7 separate regions of the Homo sapiens genome follow, and regions 2, 3, 4, 5, 6 and 7 are each reported to be linked to region 1. Evidence: microRNA targets listed by miRTarBase, many of them from high-throughput screens and not tested one by one. Region 1 holds a microRNA gene; each other region holds the end of a gene's coding sequence.

Region 1 (4,348 bases):
GATTCTCCTACCTCAACCTCCCGAGTAGCTGGGATTATAAGTGCCCACCACCACACCTGGCTAATTTCTGTATTTTTTGGTAGGGACGGGGTTCCACCATGTTAGCCAGGCTGGTCTCAAACTCCTGACCTCAGGTGATCCACCTGCCTCAGCCTCCCAAAGTGCTGGGATTACAGGCGTGAGCCACCACACCCAGCCCTAGCGAGTCACTCAACAAACTGAGTCCCAGCGCCTTATTTGTGCCTCCCTCGTGGAGTCCTTGTAAGGATAGGATGGCAGCGCTTTCCACCCCTGGGCACGGTTCCTGGGGGAGGAGAGCTAACAAAGTTCGCTCTCAGTGCATGCTGGCGGGGGCTGGTAATGTTGTTTTTGGTTAGATTTGGGGAGGATGAAGGGAGGAGCAGAAAGGTGGGAAACAGGATCTCTGGGAGGGAGAAAGGAAGGATGGATTTAAAAGGTTTCTTAGGTGAGGCAGAACTTGGGGTCCACAGAAACTGAATTGTAGCTCAGCCAAGCTGAATCAGATGGAAAGCTGGGAGGCGCTGGGAACAGGAAAGCCATCTGTGCCTCTGACAGCAATGGGGTGCGAGTAGAGGGCAAAGTGACACATGTCAGTGGAGACTTGGGATCCTTGCGGTGCCAGTCTCAGAAGAGGATGGTTCTTGGGCACACCCCACCCTCCATCCCTTTTTATGCCACCAGATGCGCTGCCTGACCACGCCTATGCTGCTGCGGGCCCTGGCCCAGGCTGCACGTGCAGGTAGGACCAAAGAAGCCTTTGCTGGGGGTAGGGGAGTCCAGTCTCCTGGTATGACGTCACGCCCTTCTTTTTGCAGGACCTCCTGGTGGCCGGAGCCTCCACAGCAGTGCAGTGGCAGCCACCTACAGTGAGTACCTGGGTGGCCTCTAGCCTCAGGTGTTCCTGACTGGTCCTGCTGGAGTAGGGGAAGAGACCTGAGTTCCAGTCCTGGCTTTGTCAGGGGCGTTCTTCTCTGAGCCTGTTTCCACTTTTAAAATGATTATGGTGATGGAGACTGACTCTGATTCACAGGGGCAGGGTCCATCATTGCCGAGGTTAGCATGTGTGATCTCAGAGCTCCCTGGGTGTGATGGGGAGGGGGTTGCCAGGTGTGAGCCATGGGTACCTGTGCCTATTGCCAGTCCCTGGTGAAGGCAAAGGCTCAAGCCCCCCACCTACCCCCCTTGATTCCTCTTTCAAGCCCTGTTGGGCAGGGAAGTGCGTCTGGGCTCCAATGGCCACCCAAGCACAGGGAGAGGTAGGCACGGACGGGCTCAGGCCAGAGGCGGCCTCCAGGGTCCTTGCTGAGGCTGGGGAGAGGTGTGGTGAGTGTACAGCCCCTTTGTAGCCCAGCAGTTGCACCTGGAAGTGAGGGCCAGGCTGCTCTCCCTGAGGCTCCAGGGAGACAGTGTGTGAGGCCTCTTGCCATGGCCTCCCTGCCCGCCTCTCTGCAGAGTATGTGAACATGCAGGATCCCGAGATGGACATGAAGTCAGTGACTGACCGGGCAGCCCGCACCCTGCTGTGGACTGAGCTCTTCCGAGGTGCGTCCTGGGCATGAGGGGACAGGGAAGGTGCCGGGTGGGCACGGATGCATGGGGGAGGAGGGTGCCCCTGCCCACCACACCCGTGCTGCCCACAGGCCTGGGCATGACCCTGAGCTACCTGTTCCGGGAACCGGCCACCATCAACTACCCGTTCGAGAAGGGCCCGCTGAGCCCTCGCTTCCGTGGGGAGCATGCGCTGCGCCGGTACCCATCCGGGGAGGAGCGTTGCATTGCCTGCAAGCTCTGCGAGGCCATCTGCCCCGCCCAGGTGAGCCCCTGCCCCAACCGGCCACCACGCCAGCCCCTGCCACTGGGAGAGGGAGGCCAGGCAGCCCTAGGCCCAAACCCTAGCCCCTGCTTGATGTGCGTCCCCAGGAAGTCCCTTTCCCCCTCTGAGCCACTTCCCTCGTGAATGGGAATGATGAGGGCTTGTTACCAGAGCACAGAGTCAGTGAGTTGGCAGAGTGAAGCTTCCAGCCCTGGGCAGGCGCCTGACACACAGAGGTTCCCCCTTGGGGTCTGGCCAAGGGTGTGACCCCTGGGCCTCTGAGCCATGGGGTGACACCTGAGGCCATCCACGCCTCCCTGGATGTAGCCACCGTTTCCGGAGTCCTGCTTGTGTGCCTGTTGCAGCTTCCCTTCCCCAGTGGCTGCTCCCCTGAGGCCCGGCTTTCCGTTCTCTTAGTGGGTCTCGTGCTTACCCGTGGGGGCCAGGCCTGCCAGCACGGGAACAATATGACTCGGTCAGAGCTCTGGTCAGACCCCTGTGTGTGCCTGGCAGGAGCCCCGGCAGCCGCCGCCGCTACTTTCTGTGTGCACAGCAACCCCTCCCAGTGTTCTGTGACTCGGGTGGCTCCTGTCCAGATCCTAGTTTGTCCTCTGGAGCACTCCCAGGTCCTCCAGGCCATGAGCTGCGGCCCTGATGTCTCTACTCCAGCCACGGACTGAGAGTGCATAGGAGTGTCCCCAAACAGCAGTCACGATGGTCACAACCTTGGCTTCCAGACAGTGAGTGCTGTCCACAGACAGACCCGGTGCTGTGCCATGTGTGTGACTCACAGCCTCTCCTGTAATCTCCACAACCCCTCGAGGAGGTCGAGGTTATTGTCTCCATCTTTATAAGCACTAAAGGATGAGCCTGCCAGCCACAGGTCCCACTGTGAGTTGTGGACACTACATTTCTGGGATGGGGGCATATGAGAGTCCTTGCCAAGCACATTTGAAGGTTTTCCCAGCCAGCCCCTCCCCCAGCGGGCTACCCAGGAACTGAGAGTTAGGACGTGCCCTTGAGTTTGGGCTGTGCCCCCACTTGCTGTGTAGCTTTGGGGAGCCCCTCAACCTCTCGGAACCTTGTTTTTCTCATCCATCAAATGGAGAGAAGTAGATTTAAGGCACAGGATTGCACCCAACAGTGTAGGCATTCTTGGCGATGTTGCAGGTTCGGCTCCAGACCATCGGGGTAAACTGAGTCACACAGCTGTTTTGGTTTTCCAGTGCATTTAAAAGTTAGATTTAGACCGGGCACAGTGGCTCATGCCTGTAATTCCAGCACTTTGAGAAGCCGAGGTGGGCGGATCACTTGAGGTCAAGAGTTCGAGACCAGCCTGGCCAACATAGTGAAACCCCGTCTCTACTAAAAATAACAAAACTTAGCCGGGCACGTTGGCAGGTCCCTGTAATCTCAGCTACTTGCTAGGCTGAGGCACGATAATCACTTGAACCGGGAGGTGGGGGTTGCAGTGAGCCAAAATTGAAAAAAAAAAAAAAAATTAGGGCCGGTTGCGGTGGCTCACGCCTGTAATCCCAGCACTTTGGGAGGCCAAGGTGGGCGGATCACAAGGTCAGGAATTCAAGACCAGCCTGGCCAACATGTTGAAACCCCGTCTCTAGTAAAAATACAAAAATTAGCCGGGTGTGGGGTTGCACACCTGTAGTCCCAGCTACTCAAGAGGCTGAGGCAGGAGAATTGCTTGAACCTGGGAGGCGGAGGTTGCAGTGAACTATGATTGCACCACCATACTCCATCCTGGGCCACAGAGCAAGACTTCGTCTCAAAAAAAAAAAAAGGATTTACACTGTACTGTAGGCTGCGAAGTGTCTAAAACACAATGTATATACCTTAATTAAAAATACTTTAGGGGCCAGGCACAGTGGCTCACACCTGTAGTCCAAGTGCTTTGGGAGGTCAAGGTGAGGGGATTACTTGAGCCCAGGAGTTTGAGACCAGCCTGGGCAACATGGCAAAACCCCGACTCTACAACAACAACAAAAAATACAAAAAATTAGCCCCTGTAGGCCCAGTTACTTGGGAGGTTGAGGTGGGAGGATCGCTTGAGCCTGGGAGGTTGAGGCTGCAGTGAGCTATGAGCTGCACCACTGTACTCCAGCCTGGGTGACAGGGCAAGACTCTGTCTCAAAAAACAAAAACAACAACAAAAACTTTATTCCTAAAAAGTGCTGACCCAGAGATAAGAAGCAAGCACATGGTTGGTAAAATGACATCAGTGAGCTTGCTTTATGCAGGGTTGCCCCAAACCTTCAATTTGTAAAACTCAAAATATCTGGAAAGCTTGGTGAGGCGAGGCGGGACTGTAACTCAGCACTCACCGCAGGGTGAGACCCTTAGGGCAGCGGGTGCTACACTGAACAAAGCGGTGAACAGCCCCCTCGTGAGAGGGGGTTCTTGGCAGATGACGCCAGCAGCTGACAAACAGGCAAGGCAGGCCGGGCACGGTGGCTCACGCTTGTAATCCCAGCACTTTGGGAGTCCAAGGTAAGCGGA
Region 2 (4,348 bases), not on the chromosome of region 1:
GGATTACAGGTGTGAGCCACTGCACCCAGCCAATATAGGTATATTCTAAGACCTAAATGCAAAAGCTACAACTACAGAGGTTCTAGAAGAAAACATAGATCAATATGTTTGCAAATGTGGGCCAATGAAAGATATCTTAGGCAAGACCCAGGCAGTGGTCATTGTAAAAAGAAACAAATGATGCAATGGACTTCATTATAATTAAACCCATCAGCTTATGAACAGACACCATTAAGAATATGCATAAGAAAGACACAACTGGTAAAAAGTGTTCCCAGCACACATATCAAAGTACTTGTATCCAGAGTATTTTAACAACTTGCACAACTCTAATAAAAAATTTAAAAAGCCAGGTAAAAACTAGGCAAGGGACTTGAACAGGCACTTCGCTAAGGAAGACAGATAGCTAATAAGCACATGAAAAAGTGCTCGATATTATTAGTCATCACAGAAATGCAAACTAATGCCTCAGTGAGATACCACAGTGAGTCACCCAACAGAATGGTTAAAAGTTTAAAGCTGGCAATACAAGATTTTTTGGAGTACCCTAAGAAACGAGCACTGCTCATTAGAGTATAAATTGTCACAATAGCTTTGGAAATCTGTGTGAAGTTTCTTATAAAGTTAAATATACCACTACCCTGTGGCCCAGCCATTCCATTCCTAGGTATTTACTCGGGAGAAAGGAAAACAAAAGTCCACAGAGATTCATACGAGGATGTTTCTATCAGCTTTAATCACACAATAACTGTAACACATATCTATTTTTAGATTAGGGACCTTAAAATAGATACTGCACTTGATCGTAGCCAAAAGGCCAAGAAGCCATGTGAACCTTAAAAATAGGAATGTGCCAGGGGTCAGAAATGGATGATTAGCTAGTAGGCCCAGCTCTAGGGCCATCAGCCTAGAGGCAACAAAAGTCTCACTGCTGTTTGGTGGCAAAGAAACTTCTACCTCTCTCTGCCTTCTTTCCAACCCTCTTGATCCCTTAAAGAAATAAAAAAAAAATCAATCACCCAACATTTGCACTCACACGAAAATTCACACACCCTCTCATAAACTGTCTCATACACACTAACACACATACTCACACACTCACCCATTCCACACATTCACGCATATGCACACACAAACTCATAAACACACTCTGAAACACACATTCACTCATGTGCACACTCAACAACACAAAGTCACCCACACATTCACTGTCATACACACATTCACACACCGTCTCACTCTCACATATTCACATACTTTTACTAACACACATATACATTAAACACATAAACATACATTTGACCACTAACACACATTCACTCACACACAAAAACTGATGCATACTCACACTCAAATACAAACACACATTAACATATTCACACACCATCTCACACACTCACATATTCACACATTCGCTGACACATGACACACACAAACTCTCCTACACTCACTCTCACACAATCACTAGTACGCATACTCACACATATTCACCATCTCACACACACTCACAGAGATGGGCCTGGTTTTGATGCTCCAGGTGTGGAAGCCCAATAGTGATACAAGGGATCCTGGGGCCACTGGTCCAGCCTGCTGTCCCTCACCCTTCCTTAAATATGTTATTCATTTCTGAGAAGCTCAACCAGTGCCCTGAGGACCCAACCAGCCACTGCCTGGGCCTACCAGTGTCCTGTCTACTGGGACTATCCAGCCTGCTCAGCTGGGTTTCTTTGCCTGGGTCCGTGGGCCGTGAACCCTAGCTCATGACCAACATGCGCAGATAGGGCATTCTAGAATGCCTTGCAGACCGAGCCCCAAGTATACACCAGTGTTAACAAAGCCACTGTGGCCCTCACTCCACCCCAACCCCATGCCCAGCCAACCTCATCCCCAGTTTCCCACAGCAGAGGCGAGGCCGGCTGGAACACTGAATGAAGTTTATTGAAGAGAAACACGTACTGAAAACGTTGAAGAGAAGGGAATCACAACACAGAGAGAAACTGCAAACGGCCACCACAGGACACAGGTCCCACACAGGTCCCGGGCCCCCTCCTCCTGAGGTTCCTGGCAAGACGCCTCATCTGCTCCTACTCCTGCTGCAGCCCCCGCTGCCAACTCCCTCCTTCCTGAGGGCCCCGGGGTCTGCCTCTTGCCAGGAAGGTAGACTCTGGCAGTGTCCACTGGCTTTAGGGAGTCCCCTCCCAAGCCCATCTGCTGGGGCAGGGCCCTGCCCTATGGCCCGCACAGGACAGTCACAGGACACTGGAAAACACAGCAGGGAACACCCTACCAGGTTAAGGAAACTGAGTCATGAGTAACAACAGGGGTGGAACACCAAAGCACAAAGCTCCTCGGGAGCCTCAGGCAGGGCAGCCCCGCTCCGTCCTGGGTCCAGTTCTTCCTCCCACAGTCACGGTCACCATCGTGGTCACAGGGTGAGCGTCCGCCTTGCCCTGGTGCTTCCTTCCTGTCATCTCCTGGGACTGTGCTGGGGGACTCCGGGGAGGAGCTGCTCAGAGAAGAACACACACAGCTCCACAAGAACAAGCAGCCACTGGCCTAGATCTACACAGGGAAAGCAGAGGTGGTGCTCATGACGCGGGACAGCAGTGAGCAGAGCCTGGGCTCACAGGAAGCTCACAGCATGTGCCTTGGGCCCAGAGGCGGCCACCTGGGTGGGTGCATAGCACACTACTTTGCACAGGAACAACGGCTAGCGGTGGGTGGGCGTCTGCTGGACGCGTGGGTCACTACAGGGGCCTACACAGGTGAGGATGAGCTTCCTGGAACAGGGGGCAGCCTGTCCCGGGAACAGTGAGTTGGGGGACCCCTCTTGGGAGACCCAGGCATCTGGCACCCTTGAGAGGGCCTCTTTCCCCCTGTCATCTCCCAGCTCAGGGCTGGGGGAGTTTGGGACAGACGTCTTCAGGTGCCTCCACCCAGGCCATGGCTGGCTGCTTAGGGGATGCCTCCAGGCTGGATTCCCCAAGGTGGCAGGGTTGTGGCTGGCCTTGGAATTGGCATTGGCATCTGTTGAGTTGCTTTGGCCATGGCAGCCCCAGGTTCTCCTTGCTTGATCTCTCCAGGAGTCTGGTGGCCCTGTACAGAAACAAGCAGAAGAAACAAAACCCTACCAAGTCCTCCCTTTTCCTCCTCCTTTGCAACAAAGACTTCCCTTCACAGCCACCCTGGTCCAAGTCAACTGTGAGGGCACTGGCCTGCCGGGTACCCAGTACCCCTGCTGGGGGTCTTCTCATCAATCTTTGGTCTCCTTGCCTGCACAACCTCTGGCTGGCACTGGGCTCCCGGGGCCTTAGGGTCTCCTGTCCTCACTGGCACAGGGCCTCCAGGGTGCTGCCTTCCTGGGGCTCCCCTAGTGCAGTGTAGATGATCCTGAAGACGGGATGGACCCTGTGGCCTCCCCTGCAGGGCTTTACCTCTGCCCCCCAGCTCTTCCTCACCAGCCCTGGCACCTGCTGGCAGGGGCAGGCCCCAGGTAGGCTCCTCCAGGTCCCATGTGGCCTGGGGGCCAGTGGGCATGTTCAGCTCAAAGTCCACAGGGTGGGTATTTAGGGGTGGTTGGATGAGCAGGACAGAACCCCCAGCCGTACCTTCTTCAGCTTCTGCTTCTTTGGGGTCCCCATCTGAGGCCCAGGCACCCCATGTGCTGGATGCAGTGGCTCCCTGCTTTCCTCTCCAGCACCTCTTCGGGGACCTGGACCTGACCCCCACTGAGCCTGTTGCCAGGTGGTCTTGGTTGCTGAAGTCCCTTCCAGCTGGCCAAGGGTGAGAAGGCTTGGCCTTGGTCTGGCTGCCCTGTCCCTCTGCCCCACTCAACTCATCTGCTGTTTGTCTGGGCTTCTCTTTCCCCTCCTTCCAATATCTCTTTTGTCTCCTTGGCCTGTGGTAGGAAATGTTGCCCTGTTCTCCCGAGCCTACTTGGCCTTGGACTTGGGATGGCTCTTGTCCCAAGCCCAGTTCCCGTTTCCCGACTCAACTGCAGCCTGTTTCTTCTGCTTTACCAAGAGCAGGTTGGAGGGGTTGATGCACTGTACCCTGATGTGGCCGTCTTCCCCACAGCTATAGCAGAATGTGTGGCGTTTCCGTTTTCTTGAGCCTCGAGAGCCAGCCCTTGCCACACCACCCCTTCGGTGTTGGCCTCTGCCCCTCCGGCGCCGGTAGCCCTGGGAAGGCCTCGCATCAAAACTGTTGCCAGAGGCAGGGAGAGGTACTGCCCCAACCCCAGTGATCCTGGCAGGTGGCCTTGGGGCTACTTCCAGCCCCTCCAGACTCTCCCTATCTGGACCTAAAGTGGCCTCCCATTCCTCCTCCTCACGCAGGAGCTTCACCA
Region 3 (4,348 bases), not on the chromosome of region 1:
CCTGGATGTTTTAGAGCTAAATCCACCATCTCTTTTCCTATACCACCACACCACACCACCCCTTGAGTAGATGAATAGATAGATGTGAAATAATGCATGTGCTCAGTGATGGGCAAAACATAACACACAGAACCATAGCTGAATTTTCAACCACAGCCAAACAATCTGGGTAGGGTCTCTTCAGAAGCTACCGCAGCATCTTGACAAGGGTGGAGGATGTCGCCTCCACGTGGCAAAGACAGACCCTTTCCTACAGAGAAAAAGAGACAGGTCTGTCGAGCTGGCCTGCTCCCTGCTTCTGAAGTCTTAGTCATTGATTTTTCTATCACTTAGTTAAGTCACTAACCCCCCTAGGGCCTTATATAAATTTTTAAATATAATTTTTGAATTTATAATACAGAGGGTTTTTAATTTTTCTAAGTACAAAAAAAAAAAAACCCTCAATACCACCTCTGTGCCCCTTCCTCCTCATCCTCATCTTCATTCCCCACCACTGATTTCCTGCTTCTCCCTTGGATTTAGTTTCAGGTGAGAGGATCCCTTCTCTCCACTGCTTTCCAGGAGCCAGAGGTCTGCGTCCTTCATGCCAGCAAGCCCAAGGCCAAACAGAGGCCAGGCAATCAATAAGCACTTGCTGGAGGGAAAAGGCCAGACTGAATGGAGGAATCCATCTCTGGGAGTTGTCCAGGGTCAAGGGCCTCCTACTGACACCTGTGCTGAGCACCAGTGGGAAAGCAGTCACCTTTGCTCAGAGGGCGGAAGGGTCAGAGGGGCAGGTGCACCTGGTTCATCTGCTCCTAGTGAGGTGCAGAACTAAAGGGACAGACACCTCCAGGAGTGGTGATGACCTCACACTTGACCTCTGTCTTCTGCGTCACCAAAAAAAGAGCACTTTTGCATAAACACTGCAGAAGACTCCACTGCACTGTTCTAGAAAACAAGGTGTTCACAGAGATGGTAAGCACAAAGAAATGGAAGGAACTCCTCTTCCAACTCCCTGCCTCGCACTTCTCTACCAATCACCTTGAATGACTGGAGATTATTCTGCCCCATCTGCACCATGGCCTGATTTGACCCGGCTTCTGGGGAAGTGCCTGCAAACAGGCCTGGTGTGAAGGGCAGCCTCTGGCCAGGGAAAGGCCTTCCTCAGGACCAGTACCAGCTCCTGTTTGCAGATGGTCCAAAATCACTGACTGAGAAGGGGCTGTGTACCTTGCCAAGAAAGTGGACTAATATTTTTGGGAAGTTTTAATTTGCTTCAATTAAAAATTGAGGGCAGTTCTGAGCAAAACAGAAGTAGGTGAATTTATTTTCTGGGCCTCTGCACAGATCTTTCTGGGCCCTCAGCCTCTGCAGCTGTTTCCAAGAGGCCTCTACCCCAGCCAGCATTTCCCAACTAGCCGGTTCCATGACTCCTACCATTCCCCCCCTACTCTCCCGCCAAAGCAGGCCAGACCTGCCAGGGAGAAACTAATCTTAGAAATCATCTTTTTTCTTTCTTTGAGACGGAGTCTTGCTCTGTCGCCCAGGCTGGAGTGCAGTGGCACCATCTTGGCTCACTGCAAGCTCCGCCTCCCGGGTTCACATCATTCTCCTGCCTTAGCCTCCAGAGTAGCTGGGACTACAGGCGCCCACCTCCACCACTAATTTTTTGTATTTTTAGTAAAGACAGGGTTTCACTATGTTAGCCAGGAAGGTCTCCATCTCCTGACCTCGTGATCCGCCCGCCTCAGCCTCCCAAAGTGTTGGGATTACAGGCGTGAGCCAGTGCACCCGGCCAATCTTTTTTCTAAATGGAAGTGAATGGCTTAATTACCCTTTTCTGGGGAAAATTGTGTACATGCACTGAGATTTTAAGCAGATACACAAAAATTGGGTAAGAATGCTTGAATCTAGAGTTAGGGGGTCAGGCATATGAGAGCAACTCACTCTACATTCTTAAGTACAGTATACATTTTTTTCCTGTATACATTCTTTTAAATACATTTTAAATAATTTTAAATAAATGTAAAAGTACAGGATTTTCAATGACCCTTTTTCATTTTTAAAAAGTTCGCCCCATGGATTTAGAGATGTAGTGGGCTGGTTAGGCCAGGCAACCCTTCCCACATCCTTTCCAGGTAGAAGGCCCCAGTGACACAGCCCCAGTACTGCTGTTCCCACCAAGCAGTCGGGTCACAAAGTGGTCAAGGCCATAGACCTGACACAAAAAGTGAGCTGGATTAATCATTCTGCCTCACTTCAGAATCGGAACCAAGAACCAGAGCCTCTCTGCACAACTGTGTGGCTGTAATGATCTCCATTGTGTTCATTCTTGGGTACAAGAAACAGATCTCAGCCCAGCTCAAGTTGGAGTCGGGGTTTGTTTAGTTGGGACTCTTGGTGGCTCATACTTGCTTCGAATTAGCTTAAGCCATAGAAACAGGGAGGGGAGGGCTTCTTTTTTAGATCATGTTACCTAAAGTCACAGGGGTTTCTGTCTTCGGGCACAACTAGACCCAGGGGCTTCAAAGATATCCCCAGAGTCTGGCCCTGCTCTCTCCATCTGGGCCATCTTCCTCTCTCTCATGGTTCCACTTTAGGAAAGCGCCTCCCCACAGCCAGCAGCTCCAGGCTTATCCTCACAGCAACCCTGAGAGGAAACTTGCCTCCTTCTTGGTTGCTCTAGTCAAATGCCTGCGCTGGGGCTTCATAAGCCAAACGAATTCACATGAGGATTCCTGAACCAATCACTGGGGCCAGACTTGGAGACAAGAGGTGAGGGAGTGGGGCTGACCATCCAGGCCTCCAGGCTGAGTGAGGCGGTGCTGAGAAGGCAATGGCAGGAAGCACCAGAGGTCACCACTCAACTCCACACACCCTCTCCCCAGACACCCTCTGCGATGGCCTGAAGTCCTCACTACTTTCCATGTAAAGTTCAAGAGAGCAGGACCGTATCTGGCCCAGCTACTTGTTTGGCAGCAATTCCATGCCGGGCCACATGACAAGTCACTGCCAGCTTGGGGCTGTGTGCCTGTGGGTCAGGAGCTCTACTTGATCTCCCATGCTGGGACCACAGTTGGGTTGGAGATGGGGTCTCATGGCACAAACAAGGCTGCTTGGAGCTGCCCATTCAGGAAAGGTGATGGGTGGGATAGCTTCTGTCAGAAGAGGTTAGGGGAACTGCAGGCCTTATGAGTGACTCTAAGTACCACACATGACCTATGAGTTGGAAACAACTTTATTGATACCTGAGAAAAAGTGCAGGAAAAATATTCCTCCTGACCAGGTGGCCTGTCCCCTGAGGCCAGATCATTCTCTCGCCTCTCCCTTAAGCCCTGGGTCATTTGGGACCTCACTGGCCAGCACCCAGAGGCTGAAGACATCCACAGCCAGAGCCTGGAAGCCAGACCCAGAGACCAGGAGAGGGAATGTCTACAGCGTGGCTCCTGAGGTCAGGGCCAAGGTCAGCGTGGGACCCTCATCGGTCAAGGGCCAGCGCCTCTTGGATCACTGTCCGGAGTCCGATGGAAAACAGCTCCTCCCATGGTTCCCGGATCCAGGCAAGCAGGGCTGTCAGCTGCTCCTGACACACCACACGGAGTGCCCAAAAGCTCTCCAGCCGGGACACCTGGCAGACCGAGCAGTTAGCAAGGCGAGGCTCATGGGGACCACACCAGGGTGGGTACAAGGGAGGTCTCTGCGAAGGCCTCACTGTCTCCACCTTGGCTCAGTGCCTCTCCCCTTCCCCAGGCCCATGTCACTCCCCATAAAAGATCCTGACTCTGAGCTTTGTAAACAGAATCCAGCCGACGTTTACTGAAAGCCTCCAGAGGACCTGTCTTTTTCATCTTCCCTGTTGTACAGAAGATGCGGGCTCAATTTCAGGGAACTGTGGATTCAATTCCCGGCTCCACCACTTTGGACTGGGCAAACTGGTTAACATCCCCAAGCCTCAGCTTCCTCACCTGTAAATAGGACCAGTAACCGTATCTCCTCAGGTGGTGGTCACAAAGGCCAAACGGCTGGCATACAACCGGCCCAATCCTGCCAACTCAAAGCTGCCGGAAACCTCACTGAAAGCCTCGTGGCCCAGCTAAATGGCTGGGCTCCCAGTCCAGGTGTCTCCCCTGCCTACAGCTGCCTCCCTGACTTGATATTCATCCAAGCCTAGAGTCCCCCAGTTCCTCCAACCCTAGTTCTCTCATCTGTAAGTGCCATCCTGCCACCAATGCCCAGGGTTCCTAGACCCATTTCCCACCCTGCCCTCATGGCCCCAACCTGTGCTCACCATCTCCCCTCCCTCCCTCTCACTGGAGATACACATACACACCTCATCGTAGAAGAGCAGCCGCAAGTCCTCAGGGGC
Region 4 (4,348 bases), not on the chromosome of region 1:
TAAGTAGCTGGGACTACAGGCGCCCGCCACCATGCCCAGCCAATTTTTTTTGTATTTTTAGTAGAGACGAGGTTTCACCAAGTTAGCCAGGATGGTCTCGATCTCCTAACCTCGTGATCCACCCGCCTCGGCCTTCCAAAGTGCTGGGATTACAGGCGTGAGCCACCACATCCGGCCTTTCTATACATTTCAATGTGCATTTTTGTCTATGAATCCTCCTACCTACGCTTTAAGGATTAGTTCAATGGTTACCTATTTCCAGAAGTCTTCAAATACCCTCCAAATGAATAGTAAATCCAGTGGTCCGGAGAATTTGAAGTCAGTCCTCCACAGGTGATTCTCTCACCACCACAAAATGGCCCAAGTACCTTGCCTTCCTCTCATGGCTGCCAGCTGAATCGTATTGTAATTGAGAGGGAACCCTCTATTTTCTCCTGGTACTGGATAAGCTCCTTAAAGGCAGATTCCAGCACTTTTTTTCCCCCTCGAGACAGAGTCTCACTGTCGCCCAGGCTGGAGTGCAGTGGCCTGATCTCTGCTCTCTGCAGCCTCCGCCTCCCGGGTTCAAGTGATTTCTGTGCCTCAGCCTCCTGAGTGGCTGGGACTACAGGTATGCACCACCATACCTGGCTAATTTTTGTGTTTTTAGTAGAGATGGGGGTTTCACCATGTTGGCCAGGCTGGTCCCAAACCCCTGGCCTCAAGCAATATGCCTGCCTTGGCTTCCCAAAGTGCTGGGATTACAGGCATGAGCCACCGTGCTGGGCCACAGTATTTTTTCTTTTCTTTTCTTTTTTTTTTGAGATGGAGTCTTGCTCTGTCACCCAGGCTGGAGTGCAGTGGCACGATCTCGGCTCACTGAAAGCTCTGCCTCCTGGGTTCACGCCATTCTCCTGCCTCAGTCTCCCGAGTAGCTGGGACTACAGGCGCCCACCGCCACGCCCAGCTATTTAAAATTTTTTTTTTTTTTTAGTAGAGACAGGGTTTCACTGTGTTGGCCAGGATGGTCTCGATCTCCTGACCTCGTGATCCACCTTTTTAATGCGGAAAAGCACACTGAAGAACATTTATCAGAAGTATGTCCTCAGTAAGTGGCTGAACAGGCTGAGTGTGGTGGCTCACACCTGTAATCCCAGCTACTCTGGAGGCTGAGGCAGGAGAATCACTTGAACTTGGGAGGTGGAGGCTGTAGTGAGCTGTGATCATGCCACTGTACTCCAGCCTGGGTGACAGAGCGAGACCCTGTCCCCCACTCAACACCCCCCAAAAATTGAACAAATGAAATAGCCCATTTTTTGAGAATCAGTGCTTTTGGCTGGGCGCCCGGTGGCTCACACTTATAATCCCAGCACTGTGGGAGGCAAGAGGTGGGCAGATCACCTGAGGTCGGGAGTTCGAGACCAGCCTGACCAACATGAAGAAACCCCGTCTCTACTAAAAATACAAAATTAGCCGGGTGTGTGGCACATGACTGTAATCCCAGCTATTTGGGAGGCTGAGGCAGGAGAATCACTTGAACCCGGGAGGCGGAGCTTGCAGTGAGCCAAGATTGTGCCACTGCACTCCAGCCTCGGCAACAGAGCAAGACTCTGTATCAAAAAAAAAAAAAAAAAAAAAAAAAGAATCAGTGCTTTTGTAGAGCTTTTGACAAGGAGGCAGTACAGCAGTTAAGAGCACAGATACGGGGGTCAGAGAGATCTAGATTTAGATTTACTAGGTTGTGTATCAGCTGTGTGTTTTAGTATGTGTGTATTTAGCTGTGTGTATTTCCTCTCAACAATGAGGTTAACAATGCCTACCCAATGTGGTGACGGTGAAAATGGGGTAATGCACAAAAATACCTTAACACGATGTCTGGTAAATGGCAAAGAGATAACTATTAAGAGACCTCTGGTATTCACAGGTGACTCTACTAATGCAGTACTTCTTAAAGGGACATTTAAACAACTACTGCTCTGATTTAGGGAATAGTCAAGTCTTTAGTTGAACACTCACCTTAAGAACCACTTCTGGAATGTCGACAAGTTCCTTTAACCTCTCTCTGCCTCCCTTTCCTTACTTCCAAGTGGTGATAATAATTTGCCTGACAGAAATGCTGAGCGAGATCAGGTTAAAAACACTATGTAAACAACTGTAAAGGATTGCTTTTATTTTGAACTTAAGCTGAGGAAAAGAAGCCAAAAGTATTTTAAATTTTATTCTATTTCTAGCACATTCTGTGAGGGCTTTAAAAAGAAATTTCTCTCTTTATAATTTTCCTTTCCTTTATTCTTTACAGAACAGTAAATTCTGATTACTCAAGTTCTCAAAAATGAAAGCTATATCTGGAATGTTTCTATTTTGCTCCCCCTGTTGGCCTGAGAGCAGGATAACACTGCCTGAGACTAACAATTCAAGACGATCTAAACATTTATTTTCATGGACTTGACTAATATAAAGATGTAATGGCATTCCACAGAAAGACCTAAACCACAGTTTCAGCTCTATCTTATATATATACCTGACAATTAAAAGCAGTATGTTTATGTTTAATTTTTAATTTTTAACTATTAGGGTTCAAATCTAGAAAATTATTTTTATACAAAGGCTAGCTGCATGCCATTCATTTTTCAAAATAATTACTTTTCAAAAATTCTGCTGTTTCTATATTTAAGGCTGAAATCCACTGAAAACACCCAAACTTGCAATTCCTATCATTATTTTTGTTTTGCTACCACTGATTTTTACAATTTACCTTTTTTTTTTTTTTTTTTTGAGATGGAGTTTTGCTCTTGTTGCCCAGGCTGGAGTGCAATGGCGCGACCTCGGCTCACTGCAACCTCCCACTCCCAGGTTCAAGTGATTCTCCTGCCTCAGCCTCCCGAGTAGCTGGGATTACAGGCATGTACCACCACACCTGGCTAATTTTTGTATTTATGTAGAGATGGGGTTTTGCCATGTTGGCCAGGCTGGTCTCGAACTCCTGACCTCAGGTGATCCTTCCTCCTTGGCCTCCCAAAGTGCTAGGATTATAAGCATGAGCCACCACGCCTGGCCAACAATTTACTTTTAAACTTAAAAGTTATATGCACCGGCCAGGTGAGGTGGCTTACGCCTGTAATCCCAGCACTTTGGGAGGCTGGGCGGGCAGATCACCTGAAGTCAGGAGGTCAAGACCAGCCTGACCCGACGTGGAGAAACCCCATCTCTACTAAAAATACGAAGTTAGCTGGGCGTGGTGGCACATGCCTGTAATCCCAGCTACTCCGGAGGCTGAGGCAGGAGAATCGCTTAAACTCGGGAGGCGGAGGTTGCGGTGAGCCGAGATTGTGCCATTGCACTCCAGCCTGGGCAACAAGAGTGAAACCCTTGTCTCAAAAAAAAAAAAGGTTATATACACTGATTTTACCTGTGAATCACTTTTTTGTATTCAAAGTCTTAGATTATGTATATGAAAACTAATTTATTAAACCTCTGTACACAAAGATGAACATACCTGTATAGCAAGCATATATGAAGGATGAAGTTACAAAAAAGTAAAAGTATTACTAAAATTGACACATGTAAATCACTTACAAAAATACCCCAAATGGGATAAAGCTGCTCATCCCTGATTTTTCTCATTTGGTTGTAGGAGTTGAAACATGAATTTAAAATGGTAGAATTTTTTCTTTTAAAAAGTGATATATTAAACTTATATACAGGATAATTAGCAAAATGTAGAAAGGGAAAACAATGTACAAAAGACAGATAAAAACCATCACTCTCGACGGATAGTCACAATCCAAAAATAGTATAAACCTTAACAAACCCTCTCTAAACCAGGTCATATTCACATCTCCCCCCAAGTTTTGTCAGTGAGAATAAAATATACTGAACTAGTGAGCTCAGTCTTTCTTTAAAATAGGCTTGACTTTGGAACATGAACCTTGGATAGATTTTTAAACATGGGAGGGACAAACAGGAAAACCATTCTATCTATCCACTTAATTAGTACTAATTAACGGAACAAAGTTATTAAATAGCTCTCAGTGCTAAGTCAAGCCATTATTCAGAGGCCTTTTTGTTTTTCTGCTGGTTTCGGGGTGAGTTCTTTAACAAGCTTCTTATCCTGAGGTACATTCCAGTAGATTCTGCCATATTCTCAAATTCAAATGGCGTGATTCCAGTTGCAAATTTGCTCATGTCAGGTATAGGGCTATGAATTTTAGTGGCCGTTGAAGGACTGGTGTCTGCAGGAAAGAGCTTCTGGCTGCCCCCATTGCTGATGTCACAGTTTGGTACGACACTGCCATTATCAAGAAGGGCACCTTCAGTGTTTACCGGAGCCAACTCTGCTTTTTCCTTCTGACAAAGTGATGTCACCTCA
Region 5 (4,348 bases), not on the chromosome of region 1:
GGCCAGGACTCTCTCATTGTTCCCCAGGACTCCCTTAAGAGGCCTGGAATCTCCATGGCACATTAGCATGTGTCTACAACATGAATGACACCTACTAAGTGTGGCATCGTATGCAGGTCAGTCTCAACAGCTGCATGCAGTACTCCTCCTGGCTCTCTGTGACTCCTTGGCCATGGAAAGCCCACACTTACATATGCTAAAGCCTCCATTCTTCTCTCTGCAGGGATGACATGCCAAGCTCGAAGCTCCTACATCACCAGTGAGATCCTGTGGGGTTACCGGTTCACACCTGTCCTGACCCTGGAGGACGGGTTCTACGAAGTTGACTACAACAGCTTCCATGAGACCTATGAGACCAGCACCCCATCCCTTAGTGCCAAAGAGCTGGCCGAGTTAGCCAGCAGGGCAGAGCTGCCCCTGAGTTGGTCTGTATCCAGCAAACTCAACCAACATGCAGAACTGGAGACTGAAGAGGAAGAAAAGAACCTCGAAGAGCAAACAGAAAGAAATGGTGATGTGGCAAACCTGGAGAATGAATCCAAAGTTTAGTGCCCTAGCTGGGCAAACCCTTCTCTTCTCCCCCCAACACAATCTTTCCTTGTCTCTCATTCTCTTTCTTTTTCTGTCTCTCTTGCTTTGTTCTTTATTTGTTTATATTTAATTTTTACATGACCAGAAAACAAATCTTCAAGGTGTAAAATATCTACCTGCCCTCTCTCAGTTATTCAGATTGACAAGGTAGACATGGATTTGATGAAAGTGCAAAGTGCCCTCATTTGTGGCCCAAGCCTGGTCTCCTCCCAAAATACTACACATCCAACTCCTGGAGATTTCAGTTACTTACCTGCATGTGTTGTACAATACCAGATCACTCAAAAAGGTGTGTCAAAGATTTTACCTGGGATATGACAAGCAAGGTTTCTGGTGCCTATTTATTCATTCAGTGAGACACAGAGTGGAGCCCTCAGTTTTATGGATCCCAATTCATTTCATCTACTACAGGGTGAGGTGCTTGCCCCCATGTGGGTGTGGCAGTTACAGGGCCCAGGTGAGCTGAAGACAAACCACTGTACATATATATGCCTTATGTAATTATTTTCTTTTTGTAATTAGTAATAAAACCCAGCATGTACAAAAGTACCATAGAACAGAACTGCTAAATACTGTACATAGATGTATCATTAATGTAGGTTTAGATATATAACTTTAGAAATAAGAAGCAAAAAAAAAAAGAAAGAAAGAAAGATTCCTAACATGCAGTAGGCATTTCTGTTTTGATGTCTGTGTTTTCCAGGTTATTTTGATCCAGTTGACGGCTGGCCCTTCAGTGCATGGCCTTTGTTTGTGTCTCAGACTGGCAGACGTTAGGGTACCTCACTGTTCCCACACGGATCCTTTCATTGAATCCAACAAGCCATAGGTCTGGGGGAAATTGAGAGGTCTGGTAGATGGCAAAACCCACCACCAATATGCTGATATACTGTGAAATGTTACAAAACAGATGTCTTTTTTTAAAAGATAACAAGGGCCTCACTAACTGGCCTGGAGGAGGGGGAATACCAGGAAGGAAATATTCTCTAGCCTGTCACCAAAGGTATGTTTTTACTTTTCACATGAGCTCTTGCCCTTTGTAGTACAATAATTTAGGAAACTTTTCTGCAAAACCATTGATTCTCCAGCTGTAGTTTCTCTACACTCTTACAATGAGACATGGTAAGTTAGCAGAAGATGGTTTGGGTCTAAAGCCGTGAAATTCACAAAGGCATGTAGTGAGTGGCATGCATTATAATCATCGACCTCTCACTTTGACTCTATCTGGCTTTCTGAGAATGACATCTCGCCTGTCCCTGGGGCTTATCCATCAGCATTTCTTGCATTGTGATCTTTTATTATTTTGAAATGACCAGAGTTCAGTATTCAAAGATTAGATCAACAATCTTGATGATTGTCTAAGAAATGTCTCTAGAGTATGCCACAGGCTAGAAATCAAATCCAGTGTCTGTCAATCAAAAGAAAACAAATAAAAAAATTCCAGCCTTAATTCACTTTAATCTGCAAAAAGGAAAGAAGGGAGGAAGGGAGGGAGGAAGGAAGGAAGGAAGGAAGGGTATTTGTACTGGAAATCTGAATTTTAAAATGAAAAAAATAAGGAAACAAATCTTAGATCAAACCTCCGGGGCAGGTGGAGATTTTGCACTGTTACAGATCTTTCACATTCACTTTGCATTTATAAGCTGTTTGTTCTTTAACACAGTTGCCCATCATAAATATTCATTGAATGGATCCAAGTTTATTTTCAGCTCCTACAGCTGTGCTCAGTTTGAGGCTCTGCACCATGGAGGTCAAAGAGATCAAACTAGCTGTCCCTCTTTGTTTCCCTTGCCTTCCCTGACCTGATCGCACAGGCCTTTGGTGTAGTCTGGGGACCTTGTCTACTAAAAAAGAAGTCCCAGGATAAGGAAAGTGGCTCCTAAATATAACCTCGGGGCCTCTCTTCTCCCATCTCAGAGACCTTGGATCAGGACAACTGCCTCTTGGCACTGACTTTAAGGAAAACAAAACTGTTGGCTATAGCCCTTTCCTGTTTGCCAGCATTTCCTTTTTTGCATTGAATCTCTGTTGAATCATTTCTTTATTTCGCACACTCTAAGAAGGAGGTGGTGGTCCGGGAGGAGGAAGCTCGATACACTCCCCTTGAGGCTGCGGGGAGGAGCCATGGCTTGACCTCTCTGCAGCCTAATGAAGGGCACTCTTGGCTTGGGGAGCTCCCCTGCAACCTTGCCAGGGTCGCAGGGCAGGCCATGGCAGGCACAAAACAAGATGGAATAGGGGCGGCAAAATGTCTTCTAATTTAGCTCTTGAAGACTCACTGGGCCTTTTTAATTCCATTGCTAAGGTTTAAAGGACAGCGCACACCCCCGTGTCTGGTTGGAAGAGCAAGCAGCTCAGGGCCTCATCCCTGCTTGCCTGCCCTTTAGCACAACTGAACGAAGAGCCTTGACAACACGTTGGCCACGTGCACCTGTCAGTTCTGTGTCTGTGACGGGCACCCAGATGTGAGGTCTCTCCCTGTTTCTCACTGTCTTTGTTGTCAATGTAGTTGGAGACAGAACTTGAACCAAATCTCGTTTTTGTAATGTGAGCCTCTGAATCTTTACATGGGGATGCTCCTGAAGAACCTTTTACTAGAATGTCCCTATCAAACATGTCTATTTTTCTACAGTTGTTAACACAGTTTAACAGTGTATTTTGTGTCAACTGTTAAAATTTGGAACTGAAAGTTCATTGAGACTGATTTTCTAAGCAGCGAGTAGTGAGTGAATGGTGTTTTCCATTAAGACAGCTCAACAAAATTGACCCCACAATTTCCACTCATTCTATTCCGCAATATCCAGTCCTCATTCCCTCAGTCACTCCATTAGCAAACCAAGTGCAATGAGAATTTTTTAAAAGTCTCTTTTAATACAACAGTATCCATAACTAATGAAGATCACTCTCAACTAGATCCTTTGGTCTGTTTGGTTAATGTATTTGAGTCATTTTTCCATAAAGCATGGTGGGATCCGTGAGCCAGATAAGAATTTGGAATTTAAGGGTTATGGTTTGCCACAGTTGACCCCAATTTGACAGAACAAAGTGCTCCTGGATGGAAGGGCAGGTTCAGCTGCAAGCATGACCCCCCACCACAAGGCTGCTGAGTTCCTCGGATTCTCACCTCCACCCACCCCAACGTGCTCTCCAACTGGAAGAGCACCCATTCATTTATAAATCAACTTTATGGAACCAATAAAATCATTTCTGTTTTAGCTGTCCCCTGGGTAAGCTATACTCTTTTACATTAACATAGCAAATGTCAACTTTTCTGTTCCTTCAAACATGGCCTTCCAGCCTGGTTGTTCCAGCATATATCCCCTCTATGTCCATGAGGCAGAACTCTCTCTTCCCCCACTCCGTTCTTCCATCTATCCCCATCCTTTGCTGTTTCCCTGGTTCTCCAGTTCCAATTCTATTGTTTTAGTTCAGTACCTTATGTTCCCTAACAGAAATCCAGCTGCAAATGTCAACCTATTTCTTAAGCACAATTTTCTCTTGCAGGTCTAACCAAGCTAGGGCTCTGAAATGTCTATTTTTCACTGCACTCCAATTTAAAAATTATTCATGACTTCATTTAATAGTCTAAATTTTGAATTCTCCAGAGCAACATTCTTATGCTTTCCATCCCTACATTTTCTTACATTTCAGTTTTCTTACTTTTTTCCCCTTTGCTTTTTTATTTAGATTTAAGCCAGTGTCTTTGGGATATTTAGAAACTGCTTACAAAGGTGGGAACTGGTGGACAGAGAAAGGG
Region 6 (4,348 bases), not on the chromosome of region 1:
AGAACAAGAACCTGCAGGGTAGGACCTGCCACACGCCAGGGCCAGGGTGCTGCCCTGGGGTCGGAGCAACTTTGAGTTATGGGGGTGCCCTGGTGGGGCCACCCTGGAATCAGGGGTGAGTGGAGTGACCTGGGTGGGAGTACAAGCCATGGGGGTGGCCTCTCAGCACCCTGTCCACTGCAGAGGAGATCAGCGACCTCACAGACCAGGTGAGTCTCAGTGGGAAGAGCATCCAGGAACTGGAGAAAACCAAGAAGGCGCTGGAAGGCGAGAAGAGTGAGATCCAGGCTGCACTGGAGGAGGCAGAGGTCAGGGGCTGGCTGCAGGGGTGGGTGGACACTGACCTGCTGCTCCACTGGCCATCCCCCCCCCCCACCCTACCCTGCCTGCTCTGTATCCACAGGGGGCCCTGGAGCTGGAGGAGACCAAGACGCTGCGGATCCAGCTGGAGCTCTCCCAGGTCAAAGCAGAAGTGGACCGGAAGCTGGCAGAGAAAGACGAGGAGTGCGCTAACCTGAGGTGTGTCCATCCTTCTCCCGTCCCCACCTCCCGAGAGCAGAAGGGGAGGGAAGCAGTGTGTACTCTGCTCTCTAGTCTGTCCCTCCCATGGGACTTTGAGGTCCGGGTTGCTGTCTCCATTCTAGCTGTGAACCTCGGAGATGCTAAAGGACTTGCCCAAAGTCACACAGTGGGGGTGGAGCCAGTCAGTCCACCTCTGTCTGCCTGGGCCTCACTCTTGTCCATGAACTTGCTCTGATGGGCCACAGGCAGTCACAAGAGACTTTAAATCGGGGAGGGGTGACTCATTTGTTCTCAAAATGGGTTCGTTTCCAACGGTCCTTGGGCATTTGTAAGGACAGGTATGCCCTTACGAGACCCCCTTTCATGCCACCCTCCTCCCATAGGCGCAACCACCAGCGAGCTGTGGAGTCCCTGCAGGCCTCCCTGGATGCAGAGACACGGGCCCGCAATGAGGCGCTGCGGCTCAAGAAGAAGATGGAGGGTGACCTCAACGACCTGGAGCTGCAGCTGGGCCATGCCACCCGTCAGGCCACAGAGGCCCAGGCTGCCACGCGGCTGATGCAGGCACAGCTCAAGGAGGAGCAGGCAGGGCGGGACGAGGAGCAGCGGCTGGCAGCTGAGCTCCACGAGCAGGCGCAGGCTCTGGAGCGCCGGGCCTCGCTGCTGGCTGCGGAGCTGGAGGAGCTGCGGGCTGCCCTGGAGCAGGGCGAGCGCAGCCGGCGACTGGCAGAGCAGGAGCTTTTGGAGGCCACCGAGCGCCTCAACCTTCTGCATTCGCAGGTGGGGACAGGAGTCCCTGGGGACAGAGCAGGTGCAGGCCTGCTGGCTGGCTGGCTCTGAGACTCCTCTTCCCCTCAGAACACAGGCCTCCTAAACCAGAAGAAGAAGCTGGAGGCGGACTTGGCCCAGCTGAGCGGGGAGGTGGAGGAGGCTGCACAGGAGAGGCGGGAGGCTGAGGAGAAGGCCAAAAAGGCCATCACTGATGTGAGGCTGGGCAAGGGCTGTGGGGAGCCTGGGACAGAATTGCAGAGGGACTTCCCTGAGGCTGGGCACCTGACCAGCTCCTCCTCCCCAACAGGCGGCCATGATGGCCGAGGAGCTGAAGAAGGAGCAGGACACAAGTGCACACCTGGAACGGATGAAGAAGACGCTGGAGCAGACGGTGCGCGAGCTCCAGGCCCGCCTTGAGGAGGCAGAACAGGCCGCCCTCCGTGGCGGGAAGAAGCAGGTGCAGAAGCTGGAGGCCAAGGTGTGTGCAGCCCCTCTAGTCCTTGGCGCAGGCAGGGTGGGTGACCCAGGGGTGGGCTTGGCATCAGGCTGTCCCCCTGCCTGCAGGTACGGGAGCTGGAGGCTGAGCTTGATGCAGAGCAGAAGAAGCACGCCGAGGCCCTTAAGGGCGTGCGCAAGCATGAGCGCCGTGTCAAGGAGCTCGCATACCAGGTGGGCGACAGGGTCTCCCTGGGGAGTGGCCCTGGAGCTGGCCCAGCCCAAGCAAGCCCTGAGTCCCCCTTGCCCGCCCAGGCCGAGGAGGACAGGAAGAACCTGGCTCGCATGCAGGACCTGGTGGACAAGCTGCAGAGCAAGGTCAAGAGCTACAAGCGCCAGTTTGAGGAGGCGGTGAGTGCGCTGGGGCCTGGACACCTGGACCGGGCACCCCAGCTCTGCCCCAGGGTCTGTGGCCAGGTGAGGCATCAGCAGCAGCTCCACCCTCCAAGGTCAGTGACCCAGAGGGAAGAGAGAAGCTTCTAACATCTCTGGGGAGATCAGACCTAGCTCCTTCTCATGGAACAGACCCCATGTGCTTTCCCCTGGCCAAGGCTGGGGCTGCCTCTGAGGGGTGGGGCAGGCACAAAAAGGCACATGAAGTTGGTGCGTCCCAACTTCCTTATTCCCGCTGTGGTATTGGTGAGGATGGACAGTGGCAATAGGAACAAAGTTGAGAACCAGGAGGAGCTAGCTCCCTTCTTGGACTGGGGCAGGGACCAGAATAAGCATCTCAGTCACCCAAGCGGAACCAAGGCCCTGTGTGTGCCCCCAGGAGCAGCAGGCCAACACCAACCTGGCCAAGTATCGCAAGGCCCAGCACGAGCTGGATGATGCGGAGGAGCGGGCAGACATGGCGGAAACCCAGGCCAACAAGCTGCGGGCACGGACCCGGGACGCCCTGGGCCCCAAGGTGAGGAGTGGCAGGGGCATTGCTCTCTGTGCAGGGGGACTGTGGGGGCTGACAGGTAGTACTGCTCACTCAGCTATCCCTTTCTCCTCAGCACAAGGAGTGACGGCCTGACCCCCTGGGCTCTAAAGAGGAATGTCTGCTGTTGCACATCTGGCTGAGGCCACCTGCCCCGATCCTGCCATCTCTGCATCGCCCCCTGCTGCCTTCAGCCTTCCCTGGGCCCTGAATAAACACCACAGCCAGTTTCCTTCTCATTCTTTTCTTTGGGGTTCAGGAGGAAAAACACAGTCCTAGGGACAAAAGCCAGGTCCACAGCAGTCATTTTTAAAATAAAGTTATTTAATAGTCTCCATTTAATTGGTTTATTTGCTGTTAATAAATTGGCAACACAAGGAAGGGCCCCATGTCCAGGCTCAGGCAGGAGCGGCTGCCTCAGGCAGAGGCAGGGCAGGCACAGCTGCCCCGTGCCCCAAGGGATGGAGGGAAAGGCCCCTCACTTCTGGGAGAACCCCCTTGGATGAACACAGCGGCCAATGAGCAAACAGAACCAGAGGAGCTACAGGAAAATGAGGCAGAGGGGCAGGCTTGGGGGAAGGCAGCATTCTCTGGTACCCACCACCCCTGCCCAGGGCTCAGAAGCCTTTGCCTGGGTCCAAAGGCCAGGGACAAGGGAGGCTTGGCTCACAGATGGGGGGTGGGGGTCACCCATATCTTCCTCCCCACTCTGGGACTGACTGACAGCCAAGAAACCGGCAGGAGCTCACACAGAGCTAATGCTAAATGTCCTCTTACCTCTGGGTGGCCCTGGGCCCCAGGGTTCTGAAGGAAAGGTGGGCATGGTACCCTGTCCTCATTATGGGGACTGAGGCTCTCCATGACCTAGGGCCCTCAGACCCAGGGGGACCAAGGGCTTCTAGGACTTCCCTCCCACCAAGCCTGTACCCAAAGACCTGGGGCAGGCAGAGAGCAGCAGGGAGGAACGGGAACAGGGCAGGGCGTGTGGCATCGTACCCACGCTCACCCACACTGGCCCAGCAGCCTCCCGAGGCCTGGCCCAAGGTCACTCCTCAGTGAAGTCCCTGTCTATGTCCATGTAGGGCTCCTCAATGTAGCTAACGAGAGCAGAGGGTGACTGCCGGTCCGGGTTCAACAGGATGGACACTGTCTCCTTCCAGTATGAGAAGCTGATGCAGGAGCTCTGGGCAAAGAGGGAGGGGCTGGGGGGCGCCTGGAGGACCCAGGTCAAGCCCAGCACCGGGACACCCCTCTGAGAGGCCCTGGGTCCGCGGCCCACCCATCACCCCCTTGAGGGTGGGGCACTCACGTTCTCTAGGCAGGTGCTGTCCTTGTCCTTGTGCAGGTAGTGCTGCTGCCAGAAGCGCAGCAGGTTGTGGAAGTTGTTGAGCAGGAAGCCGGGGTACTTCTTGCTGTGCTCCATCCGCTGCAGCAGCCGCAGGTACAGGGGCAGCCGCTCTTTCCGTCGGGCCAGCATCAGGATCACCAGGCTGGTGTTGAGGCAGCTGACGTTCTCCTGCAAGGCCACAGGCCCACAGGGTCAGGGGCTGGTGGGAGCCCCAGTGGCCCCTGGTGAACCTGGGTAGCCATCAGGCAGGGAGGAGAGTGGCCCCAGGCCTCGGGCCACCCACAGAG
Region 7 (4,348 bases), not on the chromosome of region 1:
CTAATGAGATTAAATTTTATGCTTTAATTCATACAAAATAAATATGCATTATTTGCTGTGGATTGTGTGTTATAATCTACTTCTCAGTTCTTCATATGCATAGCTAGCTTAGCTCTTCATCACTGAATAGAAACTGACCTCTTTGACTCCAGGAGGTGATGTAGGACACTGGAATTGTTCTGAATTTGGAGTCAGAAGGCCTAATAATCAGTCCCTAAAATCAAGTGGCAACTACTGATATTGCAGGATAGTGCCTAGGAAAGAATTAAGAGACCCAAAGGGTTGACCTTGCAGAGACTCCAGCCTATGAAGTATCAGCAAGTGCCAAAAATTTATGGCTCTGCAAAAAAGCACAGGGTGACTCAATTATGCAGAGAGCTCTACCACCCAATGCAAAACCCTGGCTCCCGGAATCTAAAGGACGAAATGTTGCTTAAAGTATGATATATTAACAATTCCAGTGCTTAAAAGTTTCCCTCACTAAATATTTCTCTTGGATGTACCTTAGCAAGCTCTTAGGAAGTTGCTGAGTGTTCTGATGCTGGTCCTGTGTCCTTTCCACTTTCTATCGTCTACTTCCCAGCTCCTGTGCTTTCCTTCCAGAGAGAACTGTGTGTGCAGTGTACTTTCTATGCTTCACCTTCAGGGACCTTCTCTTCTTTCCTTTCTCTGTCTTTGTCCTTGAGCTGTGTTGTCTGCACTGCTGAATGGTGGCAGTCCTGCTGCAAGGTTGTTGTTCATAGATTGTATGACACCAGCCTCAACGGGTGACTGTGGGAACTAGAGTTAGAAATCTGAAGCTCTTCTGCAAAGTGCCTTGAACTCTTGATAGGGAAGATGCTATTGAAAGGGACAAATTCTTTTAAAAGTAAATATTGTGGCAGAAGTCTTTGTTGATAAAATGACACAATGCAGTAACAGCTTCAGATCTGGGGTAAAATCAGATGCCAATTTCCATCTGAACACACGATGATCCTGTGTTGCATCATTACACATTTTTACTTCGTGTAAAAATTTCTAAGCAAACTAATACTCAAAATTAATGCAAGTATAATGAAAGTTTATCATTCAGATTTATTGCCATATAATAAATCTTTCACAAAAATCAGGAAGAAGCCTCTGGTGACTTTGCAGAGCTGAGGCAGTGATGCACGTGGTGGGGCCTCCCTCCTGAGCGGGAACCAGGACTGGGAGCATCACTTGCAGGCCTCCATGGAGGCTGCTGCCCCAGCTGAGCTGTTAGCTAGTGAGTGCTTCTACTGTGTGATGAATGAGAAAAGGGAAAGAGGGGAGGGCAATCAGGGTTCTGGGGGCACCTCAGTGAGCCCAGAGGCCTGGAGGAGAGGCTGTATGATTCCCCAGTCAGGCCTTCCTTGGGAGTGTGCCCTCTGTCAAGATGACTGGGTTTTTGAAGGGCCTCATTTCCTCACACAACAAGCACTGACAGTCCTGCAGCCCAGGGACTGTCCTGTGGCACTGCCCAGCCCTCAGACTCAGAGGACAGTTCTGTGGTCCTGCCAGAAGCTCAGCTGTTCCACATGACCCTTAAACATTTAAACAATTTTTTGGTTTAAAGGAAAAGGAAGCCAATCAAAATGCTTTGGAAACAAATTAAAGTTGCAAATTATTTCCCCACATAGTAAATACATATCCTTGCTACCTGAAATGATAATCATCACTCCCCCTGCTGGCTGAGAGCGCTTCTCCTCCTTCAGACTGGCTCTGCCACAAAGCTAAGTATTAGTAGAAGTTGTTGCCAAGCCTCACCTCTAGCCTGTACATGGGCTCTGAGGTGAACACAGGAGTCAGAGTCCCCACTCCAGCAGTGACTGGAGGAGGCCTGACAGAACAAGCCCCTTGGGGACAGGAGGCAAGCTGCACTCACCTCTGGGACCCCACCCGGGATGGGCGCTCCACGAGTCCCTTGGCCTTAGGGAACCTCTGTTTCATTCCATCCAGACGAGGATAGGGAAGCTTCCTGCCCTACCTCGACAGCCTCTAAGAGCACAGCTTGGCCAGGCCTTCCCGTGTGGAGCCCACACAGTGGTGCACTGAGAGGCTGCCAGTGTTTTGACCTTTTACAGAGCTTGGGGTGACTGAGAATGGTTCCTCCGAGGCCCTCGGAAGATTTGATGGACTCAAATAACACGGGCCTGCAGCCCTGGGACACAGGACAGGAGAAGCCAGCCCTGACACAGATGAGCTGGCAGTGGATTCGAACAGTGTGCTCAGTCTCGTCTGGGCTTTTGTGCTTTCTATGTTGAAGACCAAATACTTTTTCTTTGAGAATGAAACTAGGCTCCTTATCTAGACTGTGAAGGGGCCCGTGAGGACACAGAGTGTGACTGGAAAGGAAGGTCCCAACTGGCCCTCAATGTGGCCCCAGTGGCTGTTTCCCTGCAAGAAGCTCCTTCCTCCAGCTCAGGCACCAACACACGGATCACACCGGCCCAGAAACAAAGAGCAAAACATGCTTTTCATCCCACGTGGAATACAGTATGAACAAATTACTCTCCTTTTTCTATTAGTGTGGGTGAAGGAAAAAGACTGTTTTCAAATGAAGCTTTTCTTTTTCCCAATGATTAATACAGAGTAGATTAACTTAATTTGTGCTAGACTCCAATTTAATTCCAGCAACAGTTCACAGGCCATATTCACAGAAAAGTTAATCTGGGCTTCATGAGAAGTAGCCATTTTCTTTTTCTTTTCTTTCTTTTTTTTTTTTTGCGAGACAGGGTCTCACTTTGTGGCTCAGGCTGGAGTGTACTGGCACGTTCTTAGCTCACTGCAGCCTTGAACTCCTGGGCTCAGGCAATCCTCCTACCTTAGCCTCCTGAGTAGCTAGGACTACAGGAATGTGCCATCATGCCTGGCTAATTTTTAAGTTTTTTGTAGAGATGGGATCTCACTATGTTGCCCAAGCTGGTTTCAGATTCCTGTGCTCAAGGGATTCTGCTAACTTGGCTCCCCAAAGTGCTGGGATTACAAATGTGAGCCACTGTATCTGGCCCATATTCTTTTTTAAGAAAAGATGCAGAGGTGTTAAATATTAATATCAAATTGTCCAGGCATGGTGTTTATGAAATTGTGTGCCCTCTGACAGGCAACCAAACACACACGACTTCATTTCTTTATTAATTCCTGCCTCATCATCTTTTCTCATTGATGCTCCTTAATGTCAAAGGAATCTCTCTCTCTCACACACACATAAGACCAAAACAAATATCTTGAACATGCAAAAAAATAGTCTACGCTTTTGAATAGTGTGCACTGTTGAATAGTGTGCACTGTTGGATAGTGTGCACTGTTGAAGTGTGATGTGCCTAAGGCAACAGGATCTTGGGAAAGCTCTAGATTTTTGGCTTCGAAATAAAACTGCATGTTGAATAGCAGGTTTTTACATTTATTATTGTTGTGTATTTCCTCCCCTTTTTGCAATACTATCTACGCTGAGTTATCTATTGCCAACTAGCACCAATTCTCCAAATCAAAGTGTGTGAGGAAAACACACTCGTGCAATCCTCTTTAACAGAAGATACACCAAGTAACCTGTCTGTCTACTTCTGTTACCCAGAAATAAAAGAACTTGAAGGGCTGCTTGGCTGGAGGGGTCCGGGTGGGAGAGCATCCTGCCCTCAGTCGGAATCCATGGTGAACAGCTGGATGTCCTGTGGATTCCAGTACAGGCCGACTGCTGAGTTGTAGACAAGAGACCAGACATAGGGGATAAAAAACTCCTCGGGCTGCTCCTCTTCCACATATTTGAATTTCAATTCTGGAAATTTCTGCAATGAAAATAAGATGATTTTATAATCCCACAGTTCCATGCACAAGCAAAAGTGGTGAGAGTTTGCAGGTGGTGCTGTGGTGTGCGGGGAGCCCACCCACCCCTGCCAACTGGTCACAGGGCATGAAAGCTCTGGGGCTTTAAAATATTTCAGCTATCAAATGGCTCCTGAGAAAATGTGAATTACCGATGGAGAGAGCAAGTAACACAATGGGTCCTGGTTGGCTAATGTCAGTTTGGCTGATAGTTCCCTGCTAGGGACCCCAACAGTGGTTAAGGTATGATGAGAAATATCCTAGCTGAGACATGGACCCTGCCTGGGAGGCAGACAAGGCTCAGGCTGATATTCCCCAGAGTGCAATGCTAGGGACTGGCTTTTGAGAGGCACTGTCCTCAGGGTTCCACCATTCTGGAGGTGAGGACCTTCCCCTTCACAATCCTGAGCCCTGACCTGAAGGGGTAGGCATGTGCCACCGGTGGAGGGGGGCTACTCTGGAGGAGCGGGGGTCTGGGGTGGCCAGCTTTCTTGGCCATAGCTTGGCCTCAGTCTCTTCCTCCCTG

What was found. Region 1 holds the annotated microRNA hsa-miR-4691-5p (GUCCUCCAGGCCAUGAGCUGCGG, at 2,461-2,483, shown strand). A microRNA usually pairs through its seed, bases 2 to 8, with sites in the 3' UTR of a target mRNA and lowers its output. Matches are read on the target gene's strand: a 7mer-m8 pairs with bases 2 to 8, a 7mer-A1 pairs with bases 2 to 7 and ends in A, and an 8mer does both.
Region 2: the mRNA of PNMA3 is a reported target of hsa-miR-4691-5p. Seed matches in the 3' UTR shown: 7mer-m8 at 3,500-3,506, 7mer-A1 at 3,145-3,151 and 7mer-A1 at 2,396-2,402.
Region 3: the mRNA of STK11IP is a reported target of hsa-miR-4691-5p. Seed matches in the 3' UTR shown: 7mer-A1 at 3,255-3,261.
Region 4: miRTarBase lists ZCCHC8 as a target of hsa-miR-4691-5p. Seed matches in the 3' UTR shown: 7mer-A1 at 2,980-2,986.
Region 5: miRTarBase lists KCNJ6 as a target of hsa-miR-4691-5p. Seed matches in the 3' UTR shown: 7mer-m8 at 1,544-1,550, 7mer-A1 at 2,071-2,077, 7mer-A1 at 2,083-2,089 and 7mer-A1 at 2,672-2,678.
Region 6: miRTarBase lists TRPC4AP as a target of hsa-miR-4691-5p. Seed matches in the 3' UTR shown: 7mer-A1 at 3,411-3,417.
Region 7: the mRNA of DYM is a reported target of hsa-miR-4691-5p. Seed matches in the 3' UTR shown: 7mer-A1 at 3,421-3,427, 8mer at 2,412-2,419 and 7mer-A1 at 2,107-2,113.

Annotation. Positions count from the first base shown.
Region 1 is chr11:68,031,450-68,035,797 of GRCh38, forward strand. It overlaps MIR4691 (microRNA 4691), which reads left to right and starts at 2,448; the gene lies at 2,448-2,532. It overlaps NDUFS8 (NADH:ubiquinone oxidoreductase core subunit S8), which reads left to right. Exons shown (of 7, transcript NM_002496.4): 2 at 703-760; 3 at 837-887; 4 at 1,474-1,563; 5 at 1,662-1,834. The coding sequence starts at 703. It overlaps MIR7113 (microRNA 7113), which reads left to right and starts at 1,415; the gene lies at 1,415-1,473.
Region 2 is chrX:153,058,032-153,062,379 of GRCh38, reverse strand. PNMA3 (PNMA family member 3) reads right to left here. Exons shown (of 2, transcript NM_013364.6): 2 at 1,918-4,348. The coding sequence ends at 3,933. Among named protein-coding and RNA genes, the nearest start is that of PNMA3, 3.7 kb to the right of the region's middle.
Region 3 is chr2:219,615,306-219,619,653 of GRCh38, reverse strand. It overlaps STK11IP (serine/threonine kinase 11 interacting protein), which reads right to left. Exons shown (of 25, transcript NM_052902.4): 24 at 4,313-4,348; 25 at 3,203-3,610. The coding sequence ends at 3,461. It overlaps LOC124908064 (a long non-coding RNA gene), which reads left to right. Exons shown (of 2, transcript XR_007088701.1): 2 at 523-1,291. Among named protein-coding and RNA genes, the nearest start is that of SLC4A3, 10 kb to the left of the region's middle.
Region 4 is chr12:122,469,471-122,473,818 of GRCh38, forward strand. It overlaps ZCCHC8 (zinc finger CCHC-type containing 8), which reads right to left. Exons shown (of 14, transcript NM_017612.5): 14 at 2,130-4,348. The coding sequence ends at 4,027. Among named protein-coding and RNA genes, the nearest start is that of ZCCHC8, 29 kb to the right of the region's middle.
Region 5 is chr21:37,621,360-37,625,707 of GRCh38, reverse strand. KCNJ6 (potassium inwardly rectifying channel subfamily J member 6) reads left to right here. Exons shown (of 4, transcript NM_002240.5): 4 at 224-4,348. The coding sequence ends at 549. The region is part of intron 1 of KCNJ6-AS1 (KCNJ6 antisense RNA 1); the gene reads right to left. Among named protein-coding and RNA genes, the nearest start is that of KCNJ6-AS1, 100 kb to the right of the region's middle.
Region 6 is chr20:34,999,388-35,003,735 of GRCh38, forward strand. It overlaps TRPC4AP (transient receptor potential cation channel subfamily C member 4 associated protein), which reads right to left. Exons shown (of 19, transcript NM_015638.3): 18 at 4,023-4,229; 19 at 3,017-3,896. The coding sequence ends at 3,759. It overlaps MYH7B (myosin heavy chain 7B), which reads left to right. Exons shown (of 45, transcript NM_020884.7): 36 at 1-18; 37 at 184-308; 38 at 404-519; 39 at 906-1,302; 40 at 1,381-1,506; 41 at 1,601-1,771; 42 at 1,858-1,962; 43 at 2,044-2,139; 44 at 2,561-2,698; 45 at 2,790-3,050. The coding sequence ends at 2,801. Among named protein-coding and RNA genes, the nearest start is that of MIR499B, 11 kb to the left of the region's middle.
Region 7 is chr18:49,040,420-49,044,767 of GRCh38, forward strand. It overlaps DYM (dymeclin), which reads right to left. Exons shown (of 18, transcript NM_001353214.3): 18 at 1-3,785. The coding sequence ends at 3,636. The region is part of intron 4 of DYM-AS1 (DYM antisense RNA 1); the gene reads left to right. Among named protein-coding and RNA genes, the nearest start is that of MIR4744, 7.2 kb to the right of the region's middle. RefSeq lists an enhancer at 3,972-4,348.